Regions from separate parts of the Homo sapiens genome. Here region 2 is linked to region 1. The links come from fine-mapping of genetic effects on gene expression. Tissue or cell type: sigmoid colon. Region 1 holds a variant in brackets; the other region holds the start of a gene. All regions are shown on one strand. Distances are from middle to middle.

What was found.
Region 2: it holds the start of COL23A1, and the variant in region 1 is fine-mapped to the expression of COL23A1 in sigmoid colon (GTEx, PIP above 0.99).

Annotation. Positions count from the first base shown.
Region 1 is chr5:178,550,940-178,561,381 of GRCh38, reverse strand. COL23A1 (collagen type XXIII alpha 1 chain) reads left to right here. Exons shown (of 29, transcript NM_173465.4): 2 at 634-700. Among named protein-coding and RNA genes, the nearest start is that of COL23A1, 34 kb to the left of the region's middle. RefSeq lists an enhancer at 6,791-7,349. The variant A/G (reference allele first, on the strand shown) is at 5,855.
Region 2 is chr5:178,586,407-178,596,848 of GRCh38, reverse strand. It overlaps COL23A1 (collagen type XXIII alpha 1 chain), which reads left to right and starts at 6,456. Exons shown (of 29, transcript NM_173465.4): 1 at 6,456-6,945. The coding sequence starts at 6,652. RefSeq lists a silencer at 6,255-6,454 and an enhancer at 7,110-8,010.

The DNA.
Region 1 (10,442 bases):
AGGGCTGGGCATGTGTAGGGATTCTTGTTAAATTTTACCGAACCAAATTTTCTAGGCCAAGGATCCCCACTGGTAAGAGGAAAGGAAAATGGAAAACAGAAAACAACAAAGGAAAATGTTTTCATCAGGGTGATTCAACCCGGGCCATCAGGTCCCAGGCTGGTGGGCTAGGAGGGGCTGCAGCCATGGGGTTTTGGGACTTCCCGGGTGTGGACGGGGTGGCCTTGTGAGTGCAGAAAGCCGCCTGGAGCATTAACTTTGATCTGCCCTCTCCAGGCCTCCCTCAGCCCCAGCCTCCCTCCCTGCAGGGCTGGTGGTCGCTGTGGCTTTTGACTTGCAGGACGCTGTTTCTGTCGTAACTCTTGGTATTCTATTTGAAAATGCTGTAACAAAGCAGAAACCTGCCACCTTTTCAGGGACTCACCAGTAACTGTTTAGTGTTTGTGTTTGTTTTTCCTCATTCTAAAATTCCCTGTAGAGTTTAAGGATCTTTTGAGAGATGGTCTCACAGACAGCCCCAGCACTGTAGATGGTTTAGATACATTTGTTTTTGCTGATGTTTCCACTTTTACCCCTCTCTGTTCTGAAACTCATTCTCTCCTCGTTTTTTTTCTTTTTTTTTTTCCGGCTCAGAAGTTGGACGGACTAGCGAAGATCCGGACTGCTCGGGAAGCTCCATCCGAATGTGTCTGCCCCCCAGGTAAGTGAAGGTTGAGCTCCCTTCTGGCTCCTGCGTTCGGCCGCCGTTTGCTTGGGATTGCTGAGAACAGCATGGTCCGGAAGGTGGACTGGGGTGTCAGGCTGTCGTCTTCGTGCACTGGCCTGGGGCCTTTCTTTCCCACATTGACCCTGGCAGGCTCTCTGGTCGGTTTCCAGCAAAGTAAACGGACTCGGTTTGCTGGGTGGTATTGGTGGAGGAGCTAAGACATTGTCGGAGATGACTTAGCTGCCTGAAGATTTAGATGGTAGGGAAGTAGCAGCTGGCCCATTTCAAAGATGGAGAAAGGGGTGTGAACTGATGGGAGGTGACAGCCTGGAACCCCAGTTGCCACCACTGTACCAACATTGCAACCAGAGCTCTATGTCAGACGTGCAGAAGGTAGATAAATAGTGGACGTAGCCTTCTTGTTTTCATTTCTTGCGGTGGAGGCAGAGGAAGGAAACAGGCAATGAGGTCTGAATTATTCAAATTATCATAGACTCTCTTTGGTTTTGCTGGTGCAGACCAGGATGGCTGTGAATGAAACCAGGAATTGTTGACTTCTAATCCACATGGCTCAAATCCAGGCTCATAACAGGTCTCCTGGGTGTCCTCAGGGGAGCTTTGCACAGGCCATGGCCCAGTGTGTGGTCTCTAACACTGGTGTTTTCAGGGTTAGAATGACCCTCCCTTAGAATGGTGTCTGATACCAGTGGATGAGTGGAAAATGGTGATGTGTCTCAGACTTCCCGACGTGCAGGGAAAGGTGACTTTTGGGTGATGTGTCTCAGACTTCTCGACGTGCAGGGAAAGGTGACTTTTGGGTGATGTGTCTCAGACTTCTCGACGTGCAGGGAAAGGTGACTTTTGGGTGATGTGTCTCAGACTTCTCGATGTGCAGGGAAAGGTCTCTTTTGGGTGATGTGTCTCAGACTTCTCGACATGCAGGGAAAGGTGGCTTTTGGGTGATGTGTCTCAGACTTCTCGACGTGCAGGGAAAGGTGACTTTTGGATGATGTGTCTCAGACTTCTCGACGTGCAGGGAAAGGTGACTTTTGGGTGATGTGTCTCAGACTTCTCGACCTGCAGGGAAAGGTGACTTTTGGGTGATGTGTCTCAGACTTCTCGACGTGCAGGGAAAGGTCTCTTTTGGGTGATGTGTCTCAGACTTCTCGATGTGCAGGGAAAGGTGGCTTTTGGGTGATGTGTCTCAGACTTCTCGACGTGCAGGGAAAGGTGGCTTTTGAGTGATGTGTCTCAGACTTCTCGACATGCAGGGAAAGGTGACTTTTGTTATTGGTCCAGAGAAGACAGGAGCTGCGCAGTGTCCCTTGTCTTCTCTCTCATTCCTTCCATTAGCCAAGTGTCCGGAAACCAAACTCACTGAAAACATCCCAGGGTTGGGAGATGCCCCGAGATTTCTGCAAAGGTATATCTCATGGTGTGAAAATTCCGTCTCTGAGGGCCAGGTGGGAGAAGAATTTTATGGTTGAGCTTGAGCTAGCCTTTATAGGACCTCTGAGATTTTAATACGAGAAAGAGGATTTGACAAGGGAATGACTCCATTCACAGATCAAGAAGTCAGAAACTGTGGCCGGGCGCGGTGGCCCACGCCTGTAATCCCAGCACTTTGGGAGGCCGAGGCAGGTGGATCACCTGAGGTCAGGAGTTCGAGAGCAGTCTGGCCAACGTGGTGAAACCCTGTCTCTACAAAAAATATAAAAAATTAGCCAGGCATGGTGGCGCATGCCTGTAGTCACAGCTACTTGGGAGGCTGAGGTGGGAGAATTGCTTCATCCTGGGAGGTGGAGGTTGCAGTGAGCCGAGATTGCACCATTGCACTCCAGCCTGGGTGACAGAGCGAGACTCCATCAAAAAAAAAAAAAAGTCAGAAATTGCAATTACATGGGAGGAAAAATTCACATCCACAAATGGATTTTTAGATGATCTGCAAAATGTGTAAAATGCCAACAGTCCTTCTTTTTCGCTCCCCTCTTTCTGAGTGTTACTGGGTGCATACCTGTGTGTGTCTTTTGAACTGGGAGTCACGCCCCATTTGTGAGACACCAAATCCGTTTAGTGGGTTGCCGCCAGCAACCACCAGCATGAAATTGTGAGCTGGCACAGAAGTCTGGAATAAAAAAGGCCCGAGTGAAATTTTGGTTTTGGCTATTAATATTTGTAGATTGGACTTGGATGGTGTGAGATGGGTTTCTTGCTGTGGGTTACTAACAGAAGGCTTGAAAGTCCCCAAGACAGATGATGGCTGGAGAGTGGGAGAAGGGGGACACAAGCTGGCATGGAGCTCCCGGATCAATCAGAACTGGAGCCACATCTTGGGTCTGCCCCTTACTAGCACTGAGGGTCTTTATCAGTAAATGATAACATCTTGAAGCGGGCTCTGGGGGGCTTTCTGAGGTTATGGAGAAGGTATAAGTTAAAGCCAGTGACTACAGATGGACCTGTGTCCTGCCTTCCATCAGGAGTGGGGAGCAGGGAACAGGGGTCCTGAACTCCTCTAGAAAGAGGCCCCCAAGAAGGTCTTGGGAAGACCATGGGGGACTGAAGGGCTGGTCAGAGCCTCTAGTCCCACCGAGAGGAAGGCTTGGTAGACTCCCCGGCTCCCTGGGGAGCCCTGATCATCAGCACCGTGCTGATGCTGTCCCAGGAACTCCAGGCTGTGATGGAGGCCATCCTGGTAGGTGTGGTCAGTGTGGCCTTGGGGTGCAGCATGACGACCCTAGCCAGACCCCTCAGCACACCCCTGTCCATGCCTGCACTTTCTCTCCTGTCACCTCGAGAGCCCCTTAGACCAGAACCTTCATCAACACTAAACCCCAGCAGGCCGGCCCATGAGCCCCTTGTCTTACAAAGAACAGAGGCCCTGTCTCCAACACCAGAAGTCCTAACTCATTCCTATTCTTCCCGGCTCCAAGGCTCCAAGGCTCTCCAGCGTGTCCCTCGGGCTTTTGGAGTGTGGAGACATAGACCACATTCTGCAGTGGGGCTCCCTGTCTGATTATAGCTGGCCGCAGCTCCCCACCTAGCAGCCCGGGGAGTCAGCGGAATCTTTTGTTGGATCCTAGCATGCAGCAGGCAGATAAGGAAGGCCAGAGGAGGGGCGGCTCTTCTGGATGTGCCACCCATTGCGAGGCTGAGTGTGGTGGCAGGGGCTTCTCTCTCGCCCCAGCCAGTGGATATCGCTGGCAGGAGGACTGGCGGGGGGCCCTGAGCTGGCTCTGGTGAGCCTTGCACCCATCCTCAATAAAATAGTGTAGTGGGTTGAATCCTGTCGCCCTCAAAAGATATGTCCAAGTCCTAACCCCCAGTACCTGTGAATGTGACCTTTGAAAATAGGGTCTTTGCGGGTGTAATTAGGGATCTCAGAATAGGTCATTCAGCATTTAGGGTGTGTCTACATCCAATGCCAATTGTCCTTAAATGAGGCAAGGAGAGATTTGAGGCAGAGACGCACAGACCAGAGGGCTAGGTGACAGCGGAGTGGGGATTGGCGTGCTGCGTGTGCCAGCCAAGAAACACCAAAATGCCTGCAGCCACCAGAGCTATGGAGGGGTGTGGGAGGGACTCTCCCTGAGGAGCCCGCCCCGCAGACACCTTGGACTTCTTGCCCCTAGAACTGGGAGGGCTTGTGGTAATTTTTTGCCACGGCAGACCTGTGTCTTATTTTATTTTACTTTACTTTTCATTTTTTTAATTTATTTATTTTTGAGATAGCGTTTCACTCTTGTTGCCCAGGCTGGAGTGCAATGGCGCGATCTCAGCTCACTGCAGCCTCTGCCTCCCGTATTCAAGCGATTCTCCTGCCTCAGCCTCCCGAGTAGCTGAGATTACAGGCTCCCATCACCATGCCTGGCTAATTTTTGTTTTTTTAGTAGAGACGGGGTTTCATCATGTTGGCCAGGCTGGTCTCCAACTCCTGACCTCAAGTGATCCACCTGCCTCAGCCTCCCAAAGTGTTGGACTACAGGCATGAGCTACCACACTCAGCTTTTTTATTTTATTTTATTTTATTTTATTTTATTTTATTTTATTTTAATTTGACAGAGTTTCGTTCTTGTTGCCCAGGCTGGAGTGCAGTGGTGCGATCTTGGCTCACTGCAACCTCCACCTCCCAGGTTCAAGCAATTCTCCTGCCTCAGCCTCCCAAGTAGCTGGGACTACAGATGCCTGCCACCACGCCCAGCTAATTTTTGTATTTTTATTAGAGACGGGGTTTCACCATGTTGGCCAGGCTGGTCTCGAACTCCTGACCTCAGGTGATACACCCGCCTCGGCCTCCCAAAGTACTGGGATTATAGGCGTGAGCCACCATGCCTGGCCCATTTCAACTAATTTTAAAGTAGTAACTCCTCCTCCTCCTTCTTTTTTTTTAATAACGCAACAGTTATCCCGCATTGTTTTTCATGGGCTGCCTTGTTCATGGGTTTGCCCTTTCTCTTTGAGGTGGTCTGTGCCCGTCTGTGTATCCGAGATAGCTGCTGCCTTGTTTTGGTCCAGGAAAGAATCTGGCCATGCTGTTGGAATGTCCTGTAATGCACTTGGCCAGTCCCCGCCAAGGACGTTTGGGTCATTTCCGACCCTGTGTTATTCAGACAGGGCTGCGTGTGTGCTGTGATGGAGGGAAGAAGGCCTGCTGTGTAGCCTGTTGTCTGACTTCCTCGTGCTTTGTTCTCCCAGGCACGCTGCAGGCCTGAGGGTATTGACTGAAGGACGGGAGCCCTCAGTCTGTGGGGAGAGGCTGGGCTTTACCGCAGCAAACACAGGTTCCTGCAGGGAGGCTCTGGCCAGGTGGGTCCTGAAGCCTCCCCCTGGGAGCTGCCCTATGGTCCGGCCTCCACCGTCTGTGAACAGTAGTGACTCGGGGGCATCCCAGGGAACTGGTGAGGGCCGGCACCTTGGAGCCTGGGAACCTGGACTTGAGTCTTGACTCCGCCTTGTAAATAACTGCCCTGTGGTCCCACTCCACGTGTCCTGGAGCCAAGGGTCACTGTGGCCCTTGCATTCACTCACTCTTTGGGTTACAAGCATCAGAACATTAATTAGTGTTCTGATCACCCTGCACTAATAAAGCGAAAAAGGAAATTTTTAGTGCAGACAACTAGAAATGGAAAGGTCTGAGGTGCAGCTGGCTTC[A/G]GGCCCATCTGGGCTCAGGGCTCGCTCTCCTCTCTCAGCTCTTCTCCGCTTGTCTTCAGACAGCCTCTGCTGGAGTGACCTATGCTTGGGAAGGTGGCCGCCAGTATAGCTCTAGGTGTATATCACATGTGCTCAGCAACCCCAGCAGATACAGCACTGTTCTTTCCCGAAAGTCTCAGAATTGGGGCATGGGGAGTGTTATGGGTTGAACTGTGTCCTCCCATATTCGTATCTTGAAGTCCTAACCCTCAGGGCTTCAGAATGGGACTGTGTTTGGAGATAACAATGTTCCCTTGGAGAGTAGGTGACATGAGGCCTTAGGGTGGGCCCTCATGACCGCTGTCCCTGTAATAAAAGGAGATTTGGACACGTAGACCCATGCAGAGGGCAGGCCATGTGAAGACACGTGGAGAAGACACTTTTGCTGAGCCATGAGCTCAGAAGGAAATCAGCCTGACGGCACCTTATCACATTTCTGCTGTTTTAAGCCGCACAGTCTGTGGTACCTTTTTATGTCCACACCCAGACACTAACCCAGGGAGTTATTGTTTAAGGGGCACCTCGTTTCTGTTTGGAAAGATGAAAAGTCCTGGAAGTGGATAGAGGGGATGGTTGTTGTGTTTAATCTTGGAACTTCGTGCTTTAAAATGCTCAGGTTTATGTTATATGTATTTTACCATGATTTTTTTTTTTACGTCCCAGAATGGATCCCAGTTTGCCTGGCTTGGGGCAGGTGCCTCTCCTTGAAAAATTGCACTGACTTGGAGCATGGGACACGTTGATGGGCCAGGTCATTGGTGGATCATGTGACCATTCTTGGAACCAGGGGAGACAAAGTGGGGGAGGGTTGGCAATACCAGAAGCATGTGGTGTCGGGGAGGGTGGTTCCTTCATGAAAAATTAGGATCTTTTCCCAGAAGAGAGAACGAATATAGCTGGGCACAAGCAGTAGGTGACCAGACTCTTCCGGTGACGGCTGGCCCAGTCACCGCCAGGTGGTTTGCAAAGGTGTAACCAAAGGGTTGGCTCCACTTAAAGCACACCAGGAGGGCTGGGCGTGGTGGCACACATCTGTAATTCCAGCACTTTGGGAGGCCGAAGTGGGCAGATCACCTCAGGTCAGGAGTTCGAGAGCAGCCTGGCCAACATGGCGAAACCCCGTCTCTACTAAAAATGCAAAAATTAGCTGGGCATAGTGGCACACGCCTGTAATCCCAGTTACTTAGGAGGCTGAGGCAGGAGGATTGCTTGAACTCAGGAGGCAGAGGTTGCAGTGAGCCAAGATTGAGCCATTGCACCCCAGCCTGGGTGACAGAGCGAGACTCCATCTCAAAGAAAAAAAAAAAGAAGAAAGGAAAAAATAAAACACACCAAGAGGCAGCGTGGCCCAGGGGAAAGTGTGTTGACTTCCCATCTAGGCTGCGTGGCCCGATTCTCTGTTGCTCACCGGCTCCGTGACCTCACACTTATCCTCCTTGTGCCTCGGTTTTCCACCTGTGAAGTGAAGTGGGGTTTCTGAGAGTAGCTGTGTCATGGGATGGTTTTGAGGATCAAATGGGTTCACATGTGCAGACAGCTTAGAACGAGGCCTGGCACTGCGTCCTCAGAGCTTGTCTGTTGTTAGGTCCGTCGCCATCAGTCGGGAGCTGCCAGAGAGGAAGGGAGAAGAGACACAGAGTAGGAGGCCACTGGGAATCTTCAGGAGGGGAAGAGCGAGGGCTTGGCAGACTTTACTGGCACGTTCTTCTAGGACGTGGGTATGAAGATGCTGGCGATGCTGGAGTGAGAGAAACAGAAAAGGAAAGTGTGTGGCCGTGAACCCTCATCAGCCACCCACGTGCCCAGAAGGCCTCGAGCAGAGCTGGGCTTCTGCCCGTCACGCTGTTTGCACTTGTTACTAACCAGGCTCAAACTGCCTGGACATTGTCAGGAACATTCCAGAATGGTATCATCCTTTTCGTTTTCTTTTTGTGTCTTTTTGGATCCTTGCAGAATATTGCAGAGACATTGTGCTTGGTTTCCAAGGATGGGCACTGTACTTGCAATGTCGGGTGATTTTCCAGAAATGAATAATAATCCAGAGTTTAATGCAAGTCAGAAATCCTCTGCTCCATCAAAACATTTGGCAGTTTGCGTAGAGGAGTGAAACTCCACTTAGGACCGTAGAAAGCACAATGTGGAAGTTATACAGAACCTGATACATTTCGTTGATAGTTTATGGAAAATGTCACAGAGCGGAACAGAAGTGGTAAAAGTTGCTCATATTCAGCCTGTTTACTGCCTTACTGCCTTTGTTGGCTGGAAAAGAGCCTAGCGAAGGGCACACGCTGTCTTGGGACTTTTTTTTTTTTTTTTTTTAAGATAGGATCTCACTCTGTCGGCCAGGCAGAAGTGCAGTGGTGCAGTCACGGTTCACTGCAACCTTGAACTCCTGAGCTCAAGTGATCCTCCTGCCTCAGCCGGGATAATAGCTGGGACCACAGGCGTGTGCCACCATGGCTAATTAAAAAAAATTTTCCTGGCCAGGCGCAGTGGCTCACGCCTGTAATCCCAGCACTTTGGGAGGCCAAGGCGGGGGGATCACAAGGTCAGAAGATCAAGACCATCCTGGCCAACATGGTGAAATCCTCTACTAAAAATACAAAAATTAGCCAGGTGTGGTGGCACGCGCCTGTAGTCCCAGCTACTCAGGAGACTGAGGCAGGAGAATCACTTGAACCCGGGAGGTAGAGGTTGCAGTGAGCCAAGATCGCACCACTGCACCCCAGCCTGGCGACAGAGTGAGACTCTGTCTGAAAAAAATTTTTTTTTTTTTTTTTTTAATTTTTTTTGGTGAGTTAGGAGCTCACTTTTTTGCCCAGGCAGGTCTCGAACTCCTGCTTTCAAAAGATCCCCTCCCAAAGTGCTGGGATTACAGGGGTGAGCCACCTTGCCCAGCCTCTCATAGGATTTCAATGCAAGAAATTGTTACCCTTTTTGGGATTATTTTTTATAGAATTTTTTAAAATGATACACGTATATATTTATAAGCATTAAATCTCAGTCGACTTGAGTTTATGGCAAAATTGAGTGGCCTATAAGGCAGCTACCTTGGTATGTCAGACTCTGCCAAGTGAAAGGAGGTCATTTGTGTGTCTGATTTTTTGGGGGGCACGAGAATACTCTGGAGGCTGGTTGCCATTCCCTCGCTTCACTATGCATAGGTATTTGTTCATTCATTCATTCATTCATTCGTCTCTCCTACCCTATTTTGTGCTGGTCCTGGGGGAGCTATTGACTAAGATTCTTAGAGGCAATTGCAGACCCAGTTGTTAGAGGAAGGCAGGAGAGGTACAAGACCCATAACAGATGCGGAGAATAGGATGAGCCCTGAGGAAACACCAGTCCTACAGAAATTACAAGGAGAGATCACTTCGGGTCAGGAGGATCTGGGTTGGAGGAGGGTCCTTCCTGGGGAAGATGATAATTGGGCAAGGTTTTGAAGACTGGTTGTCAGGTTAGCCACCTGGGATGGGGGATGCATTCTGAGAGACTGACATCCTGAGTGGAGGCAGAGGGGAGCTCCGAGCACCGGTGGGAACTCTTGTTTGCTTGGAAGGTGGCAGTGGGAGGGGAGGGTGAGTCCAGGGTCTGGAGAGATTGAGGCTTTATTCCATGGGACACAGTTGATGGTGTCTGAGTGGAATTTAGCTTTAAGACGAGGGCTCTGGAAACAGCATGAAGGACAGACTAGATCATACTTGGTTCCAACAGAGGGGCCCCTGAGGGGGTGCTCAGGGCAGGAGACAGCTTGCCTGGTTCACTGCAGCATCCCCTAAATCCAGCACGGTGCCAGGCACGGGGAGGAGGGTTGATAACGCCCTGTCGAATGGCCATGAGAATTGATAGCCGGGAACAGCTGTGAGAGGCACTGGGTCATGTGGTGGACAGAACTCACAAACTGGGTGGGTGGGCACAGGAGAAGACAGAGAAGCCTGAAGCAGCATGCCTTTGGGGAGGGGAAGCTGCGCAGAAACAGGAAATCCCCAAAGAGGGATCAATTTGGAAGAGAAGATGGTAAGCATGGTTTTGGGCAGTGGACCTTAAGAACCAATTTGTAAGACCCACTGATGAAAGGAAAAAAATAATTAGAAGTCTTCTCTTAAAGCATAGTTTAACCACCTGAGTCTATCAATTATAAAATGTGTCATGTCCTATAAATAAAGATCTTGAAGTTTCTGTGCTGACCATTGGAATCTGGAGATGTTCTTGTGACCACTAGATGGAGCCCATTATACTCATTAAATTCTATAGAAATTGAACAGGAATGTAAAAGAAAAATAATTTATATATATTTAAATATATAAATATAAAATATATTAATATAATATATAACATATAATATATTAATATATATTTTAAAATTACTAGAAAGCACACAAAAGTTCAAACCAAGAGCAGTGACACACAAAGTTAACCACCTGCTCTGGTGTTTCTCTCCAAAAATGGAAGACCCTCAGAATTTTCCAGATGGTTCCAGAATCAAGCGGTTTGCTGTTGGTTTGGGGAGATGATGAAGATTCTGTGAAAGGTAGACTATCTGTTAGAA
Region 2 (10,442 bases), 35 kb before region 1:
TCTCAAAAAAAAAAAAAAAAAGACTGAGGCATAGATTTAATAAAGAACACCTGAATTAAATACCCTTTGAGGCTGGAATGTCATAGGCCAGCAGTCAGTGTAACAAAATGAAGTAAAGTTTAATAGATTTTTGGAAGATCCCCCTGCCCCAGCCACTCAGGTGACTTAAAAATTTTTCCATTATAAACAGTTTTTAAAGCAGAAAAAATCAAGTGTCTTCAAAAGCTTCTTGGTTTACCCCTAGCTAAAGACAACATGAGGAAGTACGGTTTTGAGAATGACCAAAGCAAGCCTTTATGATATTTAGAGTATCTCGTTGATAGGGAAGTTTACTTTTAAAAGACCTCACTATTTATACTTTTCAGATTACTCTAGAAACATTTAAATATTTAGAGTGTCCTCACAACAACTACATGAGAACAATATGGTCTGCTTACCAGCAGAGTTCGTTGGATTCAGACTCTGTTGTCACCTGTATTATGTGGACAAGTTACATAATCTCTCTAGTCTCCTCTTCTTTGAAGTGGTGTACTAACAACTTCCTGAGGGTTGTGAGGATTAATTGAAATCATTTACATAAAGTGCTAGTGAATAGAAGCTATTATTTTCACCGTTTCTTGATCTATTCCCCCTAGGTTTATACAGTATTCTATAGCCTACAAATAATTTTCCTGTTATTTTGCTTTTCACCCTATAGGAATTATATAAATGAGTGAGTGCAAATAGAGATTATCTCGATTTTAATGTTAGCACAATACCTTTTTCTATGTGTGTACTTTTAATTTTTTGTGTCTTTAAAATGTTTCTTATAGGCAGTATACAGTTGGATATTGCTTTTTTATCCTATCTAACAATCTTTGCCTTTTAGTTATGTTTGGACCACTTACATTTAGTGTAGTTGTTGATGTGGTTTGGTTTAGATCTGCCATCTTGATATTTTCTGTTCCATTTGTTCTTTATTACTATTTTCCTCTTTCTCTGCCTTATTTTGGATTATTTTTCTGTAACTCCACTTTATCTCCTTTGCTGGCTTATTAGCTATAACTATTGTGTGTGTTTAGCAGTTGCGTTAGAGTTTATAGTATACATCCTTGTTAAAAACCGTCCATGTTAAAAACCCACTATATATACATACATATCTATATACGTATATGTGTATACATACGTATATATGTATATATGCATGTGTATATGTGTGTGTGTATATATATAGCTTTAAACCATTGATTATCTTTAAAAGAGATTTAAATAATAAGAAAAGAAGCCTATATTTACCCACAGAGTTAGTATTTTCTATGCTCTTCAGTCCTTGTGTAAGTTCATATTTCCATCTGGCATGGTTTTCCTTCTGCCTGAATTACTTCCATTAACATTTTTAAAATTGTGGGTCTGATGGTGGATGAATTTTTTCAGCTTTTGTATGTCTAGAAGTCTCTCTTTAGCCTTTGTTTTTTGAAAGGTAATTTTGCTGGGTATAAAATTCTAGGTTGACAAAAGATGTTGCTTACCTATCTTCTGGGTTGCATTGTTTCCAACAAAGAAATCTGCTGTTATCCTTGTTACTGTATTTGTGTCTCTTTTTCTGGTTACATTGTTTTCTTTTGCTCATTTCAAGCATTTTGATTATAATGTGGCTTGTGCAGTTGTCTTCATGTTTCTTGTGCATGGGTTTCTTGAAATTATTGGATATGTGTGTGGGTTTATAGTTCTTATCAAATTTGGAAAAGTTTTTCAGCCATTATTCAAACATTTTTTTCTGCCCTCTTCCCCAGGGACTCCAGTTATACATACATTAAGCCACTTGAAGTGATTGCACAGATCACTGACGCTCTTCATTTTTTTGTCTTTTTCTCACTGTTTCATTTTGCTTATATTGATATATTTTTAAGTTCATTGATCTTTTGCCCCAAGTGTCTAATTTGCCTTTAATGTGATCCAATGTATTTTTCACCTCAAACATTATCGTTTTAATTTCTAGAATTTTAAGTCTTTTTAAAAGATATCTTTCATACCTCTACTTAACATGTTAAATCTTCCCTTTAGTTCCTTGAACATATGGAATACAGTTACAGCTTTTAATAGCTTTGCTTACTACTAATTCTGTTATCTCTGTTATTTCTGGGTTGGTTTTGATTGATTGCATTTTCTTCTATTATGGGTCATATTTTCTTGCTGCTTTGCATGCCTGGTAATTTTACCTTTTGTTTTACCTTATTGGGTAAAATTCTGTGTGCTTTATTGTGGGACATGATTAAGTATTTGAATTAGTTTGATCTCTTCAGGTTTGGGTTTTAAGCTTTGTTAGACAGGACCAGGGCAGCAATTAGTCTAGGGCTAGTATTTTCCCCACTACCGAGGCAAAAACCTTTTGAGTACTCTACCCAGCGTTCTCTGAGTTACCAGATTTTCCACACTGGTTGGTAGGAAGAACTATGCCTGGCTTTGTGTGAGCTGTGGGGTTTGTAGAGTCTAATCCTTTTGGGTTATTCCGTCCTGGCCTCTGGTAGTTTCCCCACACATGGATGCTGGTGAGTCCTCAGGTGAAGGCTTCAGGGGGACCAGCTGCAGATCTCTAATTCTCTGTGCAGCTCTTCCCTCTCCTGTCCTCTCCTCTGTAAATTCTAACTGCTTTGGCCTCCCTGGACTCAGCTTTCTCTCTTCACCTTCAGCTGGCTCTACCTGCACTGTGTCCTGGAAAATCTCTCCAGAGTAGGAACCCAGGGCAGTCCTTGGGTTCACTTTGTTTCCTGTCTCCAAAGGATCACTGGCCTTTAATGCCTGATGTCTGGTGTCTCGAAAACTGCTGTTTTTATACAGTTTTTTTTTTTTTGGCTTTTTAGTTGTTTTAAATAGTCAGATAGTAAATCTGGTCCATGTCAACATCTCTGTTTTAAAAACAAAAAGGTGGCCAGGCATGGTGGCTCACCCCTGTAATCCCAGCATTTGGGAGGCCGAGGCAGAAGGATTGCTCGACCCCAGGAGTTCAAGAGCAGCCTGGGCAATATAGCGAGACCCCCACCTCTAAAAAAAATAATAATAATAAATAAATAAATAAATAAAAAGTGAGGGTCTATAGCTTGTTTCAGTTTATACTGTGAGATATTAGTGAAGCCAGAACTAGAATCTGGGCATTGAATCAAAACCTGGTGCCTTTTTTAACATTGCCTTCTTAAAAAAATTTTTTTAAATAACATTACCTTATATAAAAAAAACACAACACCCTTTGCTATCCCTTTAAACCTTGTGGCTTAATTTAAACAATTTTCTGCTGAAAATTTTTATAAACTGGATTACATATCCATGCCTTCTTGAACAGCAGTTTGAACATATTTGAACCTTTTCATTATTAACATTCCTTCTTCAGTGGTTGTCCATCCTATCTGACCCAAATAATCCCTATTTTATAAAATAGTTTGATATGCTCCCTTTATCTCCAAGAGTCTGAGCGTTTGTAGATCATCAGGTCAGGGTTGCTACACATTTTTGTTCCAGTTGCAATTGGGCAAAGGCGTACCATGAGGTGCCTGGCCTATTCTTTCCTGCACCCTGTATGAAAGCAGCCCTACCTCTTCCTCCTCATTAGGGTCAATTGCCTCTGCCAAATGGTGCTGTCTTGATTTCAGGTCCCTATATACAGAGTTCAAAGTGCCCTGGGTGGCAGCAATAGCTTATAGTTTAATGGAACCCCTACTGTGTCCCCTGGCAAGAATGTAACCCCTTTGAGAACTAGGACCTCCAACTCTCTAACAGGAAGCATAACATCCCCCATGGGGTCATGGGGAGGGATGGCTAGTGCTTCTACCTGTGGGTTCATGGACTCACGTATTCTTACTGGGAGCACAGCATCATATAGAGGTTCCTGATTTAACACACACACTACATCCTGAGAGATGGCACTAAATCCTTCAGGGAGTGGCCCCTGAGCTGGTGCTTCATCTGTGCCTTCAGAAGGCAGTTCCAGTATTCTGTGAGGCTGGTTGCTCCTGACCAGTGCAGGATGCAACACAACCAGTGGATTCCTTGGTCCATGGGTTCAGCCCCAGACCTTTACTGTAAAATGGGTGCCCTGGTTGGGTGTGGTGGTGTGTGAGATCCTGTACCTGTGGGTTGGGCATTCTGTAAGGATAGCAATGCTGGCTGAGGCTCTGCAGGCAGGAAAGACAAGCCCACACCTGGTGCTGTCCCTGTGAGGGGCAAACCATTGGTCCTTGCAGGAAGGAGGGAATCCAAAGTAGCTGTTTTGCCACCACGTGGCCAGTTAGTCTGCCTGAGGAGTACCTTGTTTAGTCTATTGCTGACAGGTTAGCCATTCATAGGCAGCAGTAGCGGGATTGGTGTAAGTGCTGTCTACCTGTTAGGTGATGCTACACACGATAGGTTAGTGGATATTCTTTTATTCCCCCTCAAGATCTGCCCTTCTTCCTTCTGCCTCTGCTCTCTGCCCTCTAGGAGGCTGGCCCCTGCCCTGGAGGTTTGGTCATTGGAAGGCCCCAGTAGATCAGAGAGCAGGAGAGAGCAGTTGAGTATTTATTCTGTGAGCTCCCTCCCTTTCAAGCCATGGCTTTGCAGAGGCTGTTCCCCTTAACCAAGGGCCACAGGTGCTGTGGAGCAGCCCTCTTCTATAGCTCCAAGTTCCCCAGGGTTCCCAGTTAGGGATGGTAATGGCCTCCCACTGTCAATACCCGCAGAGTGCTGCTTCGGCCTCCCCTGCTGGCCCCTCTGATCTCCACTTTGTGAAGTGGCTCTACATTCAGGCTGTCTTGAGTCACCCTCTCTGAGGATGCCATCTATTCTTCCAGGACCCTAATGGACACAAGTAAGTCATTTTCTTTTTCGCCTTTTAGAATGAGTTGCAGACAGTATTTCCATCTTAATTCAGCCGCCCCAATTCCCTGATTAATCTTGTGGGCCACCTTAAATTGGGCAGTCTGGGAAGATCTTTTAGAAGCAGTGAGGTTGAGGACCTTGACCTGGAGGATGAGGAGGGGCTTGCCGTTTAACGATCTGAGAGCAGGAATGCAGGTAGTGAGGTGGTAGGCAAGGGCAGAGGCCCAGGGGCCAGTGAGCTTGGCTTTTTCAATACACAGAAGCTTCAGGAACATGGCAAACAATACATGCAGTAACATTAACATAGGTAGGTGGTGTGCAGTTTATGTGCCTGTAAGAAATGTAGTGCTGACTTGTAAGAGGGTGTTGGCCTCTTTTCAGAATGAGGCCAACTTTTCATTCTATTGGGCATACACCAGACTTTAGCACAGAGCCAAGTCTATCAACCATAACCCCCGGCCATCTCAGGGGTTCCCCTCTGAATTAAGGGAAGGAGATGGAACATGTTAGCCAGAGGCACTCAACAGTTCTAAAAGGTGAGTATCCACAGAAATGAGACAACCAGAAGATATCCAGAGTGAGAGGGAAGATGGATATAACGTTATTTTTCTTAAAAAAAAATGGTTGGGGGGTTACTCAAATCACAAAGATCTGAACTGCTGGTTTGTTGTTTCATTTAGGTATTACAGGAGTTAGCGAAAGAGTTACTTGGGACCCATTTAGGACATGAATATGCCTGGTAGGAATCTGAACCCAGCCTGACTTCCAGCAGTTCTTCCCTTTCCTGCCAAGACTTGTTAGTGCCACTCATTCTGTTCTCTGGACCCAGGCTGTACGCCACAGCCTTCTTGCCTCAGCCCTGTGATTTAAATTTGCAGCAGAATCGCAGTACAGGTTAAGTGTGGTGCATACTAGATCATAATTTTTGGCCAAGTTGTGCGTCTAATACAGAATTAAGTCATCAGTTGAACAAGACTTGAAGTTCATTTTCTGAATCTTTCCCATTCGTTATAGTCTCAGTTTTCTCAAAAGCCCTCTCCAGGCCAGAAACAGTCTTACCATTTTTGTTTCCCGCACCGAAGTCCGGCAGCTAAGAACTCGTGAGAAGATTCTAAGGGGCGTATTTCTGTTTGGCGCAATCTCGACCCTGCCTCTCTAAATGTGAGTGCGCAGAGGTCGCTTTCCGCCACGAAGCGGCGCTAATCCACCACCGAGGACAGACCCACTCAGTTTTTTGCAGGATTTGAAGTTTTGAACTTTTACAAGTGTCAGAAAGGTAATTCACAAGTTTAGAGGAATGTGCTAAGGCACGAGTGGTGGGTGCTCCAGCCAGGGGTGGGCTGCAGAAGGGGCGCGGTGTCGCCGGGCTCCCCTCCGACCTCTGGGGTCCACAGTGCGGGCTTGGGCTGGGGAAGCCTCAGAGGTGCGTGCGGGGGCGGGTGCCGGCGCCCGGGCTAGGTGAGGGCAGAGGTGCGCGCTGCGCGTGGGATCAGCCCGGCGCCGACGGGTGGCTCCGAGGAGCTCGCTCCTTCCTCGCCCCCGCCCCCTCGCCGCGCGGGGCCAGCCCGGCCGCTCCTCCCCTGGGTGGGTCCCTGCTCCTTTTCTGGCAGGGTCTATTTGCATAGAGGAAACTGCCCAAAGTGGCCGCTGTGGAGGAGCTGGCTGCGGCGAAGGGGGCGTGCGCGGCGATCCGCTGCTACCCGGAGGCTAACCCCCGCGCCCGGCGGACCTCGTGCCTCGGGCTGTCCCGCCTGCTCCTCTCGCACCCAGCCTCTGCCCCAGCAGCACCGCCCCCTCGGAGAGTCCACGCGCGACGAACGCGCCATGGGCCCAGGCGAGCGCGCCGGTGGCGGCGGCGACGCGGGGAAGGGCAATGCGGCGGGCGGCGGCGGCGGAGGGCGCTCGGCGACGACGGCCGGGTCCCGGGCGGTGAGCGCGCTGTGCCTGCTGCTCTCCGTGGGCTCGGCGGCTGCCTGCCTGCTGCTGGGTGTCCAGGCGGCCGCGCTGCAGGGCCGGGTGGCGGCGCTCGAGGAGGAGCGGGAGCTGCTGCGGCGCGCGGGGCCGCCAGGCGCCCTGGACGCCTGGGCCGAGCCGCACCTGGAGCGCCTGCTGCGGGAGGTGAGCGTCTTGGCGCGTGGCTGGGGCGGACTTGGGTGTGTCGGGTTGAGGGTGGCGGTACGCTGGGAGCCGGGGGCAGCGTGCAGGTCTCTGGGAGGAGGGTCGCCCGCCGGCTGCGTGCGCTCGGGGCCGTCCCAGAGATGGGCACGTCTGCGCCAAGGCGGAGGCAGGGGGTGCCGGCCCCAAGGGGTTTTGCGGTCTCCGCTCCGGCCTCAGGGTCCCGTGCCAGGCAGGCGGCCGCGAGAAAGGGGAAGGAGAGACCAGGGACTTTGGAGTAACAGACCTAGGGTCAGTCTCCACGGGGTGTGCGCTCGGACACGCCGCTTCCCGCCGGCGGCCAGAGTCGGGGATAAAGATGAGGCTCGTGGGAAGTATCTGGTGACTGTGACCAGTAGCACCTACTGTTCCTAACCAACGCTGGTACACCTGGAGAGGCGGTGGTCACGGCGGAGGAAAGCCTCAGACAGGCCCGAGGGCTGGGCCCCGCTGTGCTCCAGTGTGTCTCCAGCAGCTCAGGCCCCAAGACTGAGCGGTCACCGTCGCACTGAGGCCTCGGGGATGGGGGTGGGGGCGCCCACATGACTTGGTAAGATGAGAGGAAGGAGAAACAATCGGGGGTGGAGGACCTGGATTCTGGTTTCAGGCGGTGCCATCTGGGGTGTGGGCTCGCAGGACATCCGGAGTTTCCCGTCCCTTACCTGGGAATCGCGACTTCCACAGCTTACTTGAAAGCTCATATGAGGCTCTGTGACACTTCTAAGGGTTAAGATTGCTGCTGTGTGTCTTCAAAGAAAGAGCCACCTTTGGGTCCTCCAAGCCCTCACCCAGCATGTTGGTCAAAGCCTCCGCCTTTTGTGTGCGGCATGTGCGGCAGTTCCCCTCCCCACGAAACTGGACAGGCCCTGGTGGGCTGGCCAGAGCCTCCCCTGCCGAGCCTTCCTCCTTCTCCTGGGATAGATGGCTGCTCCAGACCCCAAGGTCGCTGTCCAAGGGCGCATCCTCAATTGCTGTGTGAAAACAGGCAGGGTTTCAAGGTGGAGGAGAGGGAGCACTGGCCTGTACACCCCCAATTCCCTAGACTGCCCAGCTGGGATCTTTATTAACGTATCCAGCTGTGTTTCCAATGTTGAGTTCCTTTGGATTCCAAAGGAAAGTGGGAGAAGATGACTTGCGTACCACACCTCCTTGTTCACCCCACCTGTTTCTTAGTCACTTTAATTTAAGCTAGGATCACATCTCTTCTAGCTGGGTTCTGGGTAAAATTGCTGCTTCATGAAATGATTTCCTATTTTACCCTTGAAAGGGCCTGCAGACTTAAAACTCTCTCTCAGCCCTGCTGGAAACTCCTGGCGATGGTTTCATAATTGCCGCCCATTAGCTTTTGGCAAATGCCTGGAGACCAGGGTGTTGAATTGATTTATAGAGGGCCAGTAAAGTTTCTACCTGTTAGCGCTATAAGTGTGGCTGCTCTTTCTCATAGGAGGCCTCTCTTATTTGCTAAAAATAAACCGCAAGCCCTGATTGAGTAAATCAGAAGTCCTGATACAACCATTTTACAAGGAACTACAAATTGTGTCTATTTTAGGAGGGAGGGGCATCCTGGGCAGGCAGCCACTGCTGGGAAGTGTTGATTTTTGAGTCCTGAACTTCAGCGGGAGAGACTGCAGTTGCTCTCCCAGGCTTCCCCCCTCCCGGCTGCACTGAATTTTACCTGGGTGAACTACAGTGCTTGAACAATGAGTTATTGGACAGGGTGTGTGTTCTCTCTCTCTCTCTGTTCTTGATTAGAAAGGCAAGAGAAAAATTTAGAATCCAGGGAACCCTGTATTCTGGAGAATTTGCCGTGCCATTCACACGTGGTCCTGCTCGCTAATCCCAGCTGGGTATCTGAGGCGCATGCTGTGCGTGGAGTGTAAGCTGGCTGGGTTTTCCCGCCAGTGGAGAGTCAGAGATGGTGCAGTATGAATGCAGTTGGGGCTGAACTTCTGGTTGTTTGGGTGGCCCCTGTGAGACAGCTTCTCTCTCTTAGGGTACCAGCCTGTTTCTGCTAGGAGCTATTCTTCTTGTAAATGTCACTGGATGGGAAATGTACACAGCCTGGCCGGTAACAATGAGTTCCTTGGCTGGGAGGAGAGCACTGTGGGAGGCACATACAGGGAGTGAGTAATTAACTCTAATTAGATGTATAGATACTTTTTCAAGCCATTAGATATGAAAGCCAAATAAATATTGAACTCAAAATCTCGGAAGAAAAGAACATTTGTACTTGAAGCTGTTTTTCAGTTCTGATTTGTTCTCAGTGAAGCCTCTTTTCCGTGTATGTGAGTGTGCGGGCAGCTTGTCCTACAGCAAACTTGTTTCCAGAGAACCAGAGGCAGAAACCATGTCCACATTAAAGAAAAGACATCCTTGCCAACCATACATGGCTTTAATGTCAGGGGGAAAGAAGCCAACAAAAGCCACTGTGAATATGGGACCCACTCTCTTTGTTCCCTTGGGAACAGAACTGTGAAATAACTTTTTCTGGGACCGGCTGATGTGCCCGATAATGAAGATACAGAAGCTACAAGAAAGGAATATTCATGTCAACTCATGATCATTAAAGACCCTTCCCATGGCACACAAAGGAAGAGATAAACAAGATTTCTGAGTAAGAGCCATGAACGATCGTATCTTCACTATGATGTGAAAATATTCATGCAAAAAAATCTAATATTTTCCTCTTAAAGTGCTTTAAATAGGTTGCCTAAGTAATCAATCCCCCCATCTTATACCTATAGTTACAATGTTATAAAAGCTTAAAACTTTAGAATACATGGCTTTCATAATACAGTAAAAAATGTAATGCAAGGATTAAAGAAATATTTAGTTGTATTCAGAGGAGACCATGCCAGCTTACAATGGATTTATTGTTGGCTGTTGGCCTTCCATTGTCCAGACCAATCAGTTTGAAAACAAGAAAAGCCCAGAGACTCGAGTAAAGTTTACGCATTTTCCTTTTCTCTTATCAACTCTGTATATTGGTTAAATACTGTCAACCCAGAGTCAAATGGAGATTTTTCAGCCTCTTTGGTGGTTTGTCTACTTGTCAGGGCTGCTCTCTGCTGTCAGTTTTAATTAAGATGCCTATTTTTGAATTCCATGGCACAACTGGAGATGCAGTGTAAATCATAGCTACATTTGTTTCCTTGACATTTCCTGGCTCCCAAAACAACAAAAAAAAGTTTCCTTTCAATGACTTCTTGGCATGTTCACTTTCTCTCTCCACTCTTTTCTTGTCCTTTTTTTTTTTTCCTTGCAACAGTTTGGGAGAGCTTTATAATAATAGTAGCATGTTTAGAATGAGCCAAGGATTGGGGCGTTCCTTTCACAGACATATTTTGTCATTTTGGATTGGACTTTTCCACATCGGCTTTGAAAATTTGAGGCATGGCCCCTGAGGTTGGGGAATCTGTAAGCTGAATGAATTTATACCAGAGGCAGAGCAGAGCAGACCA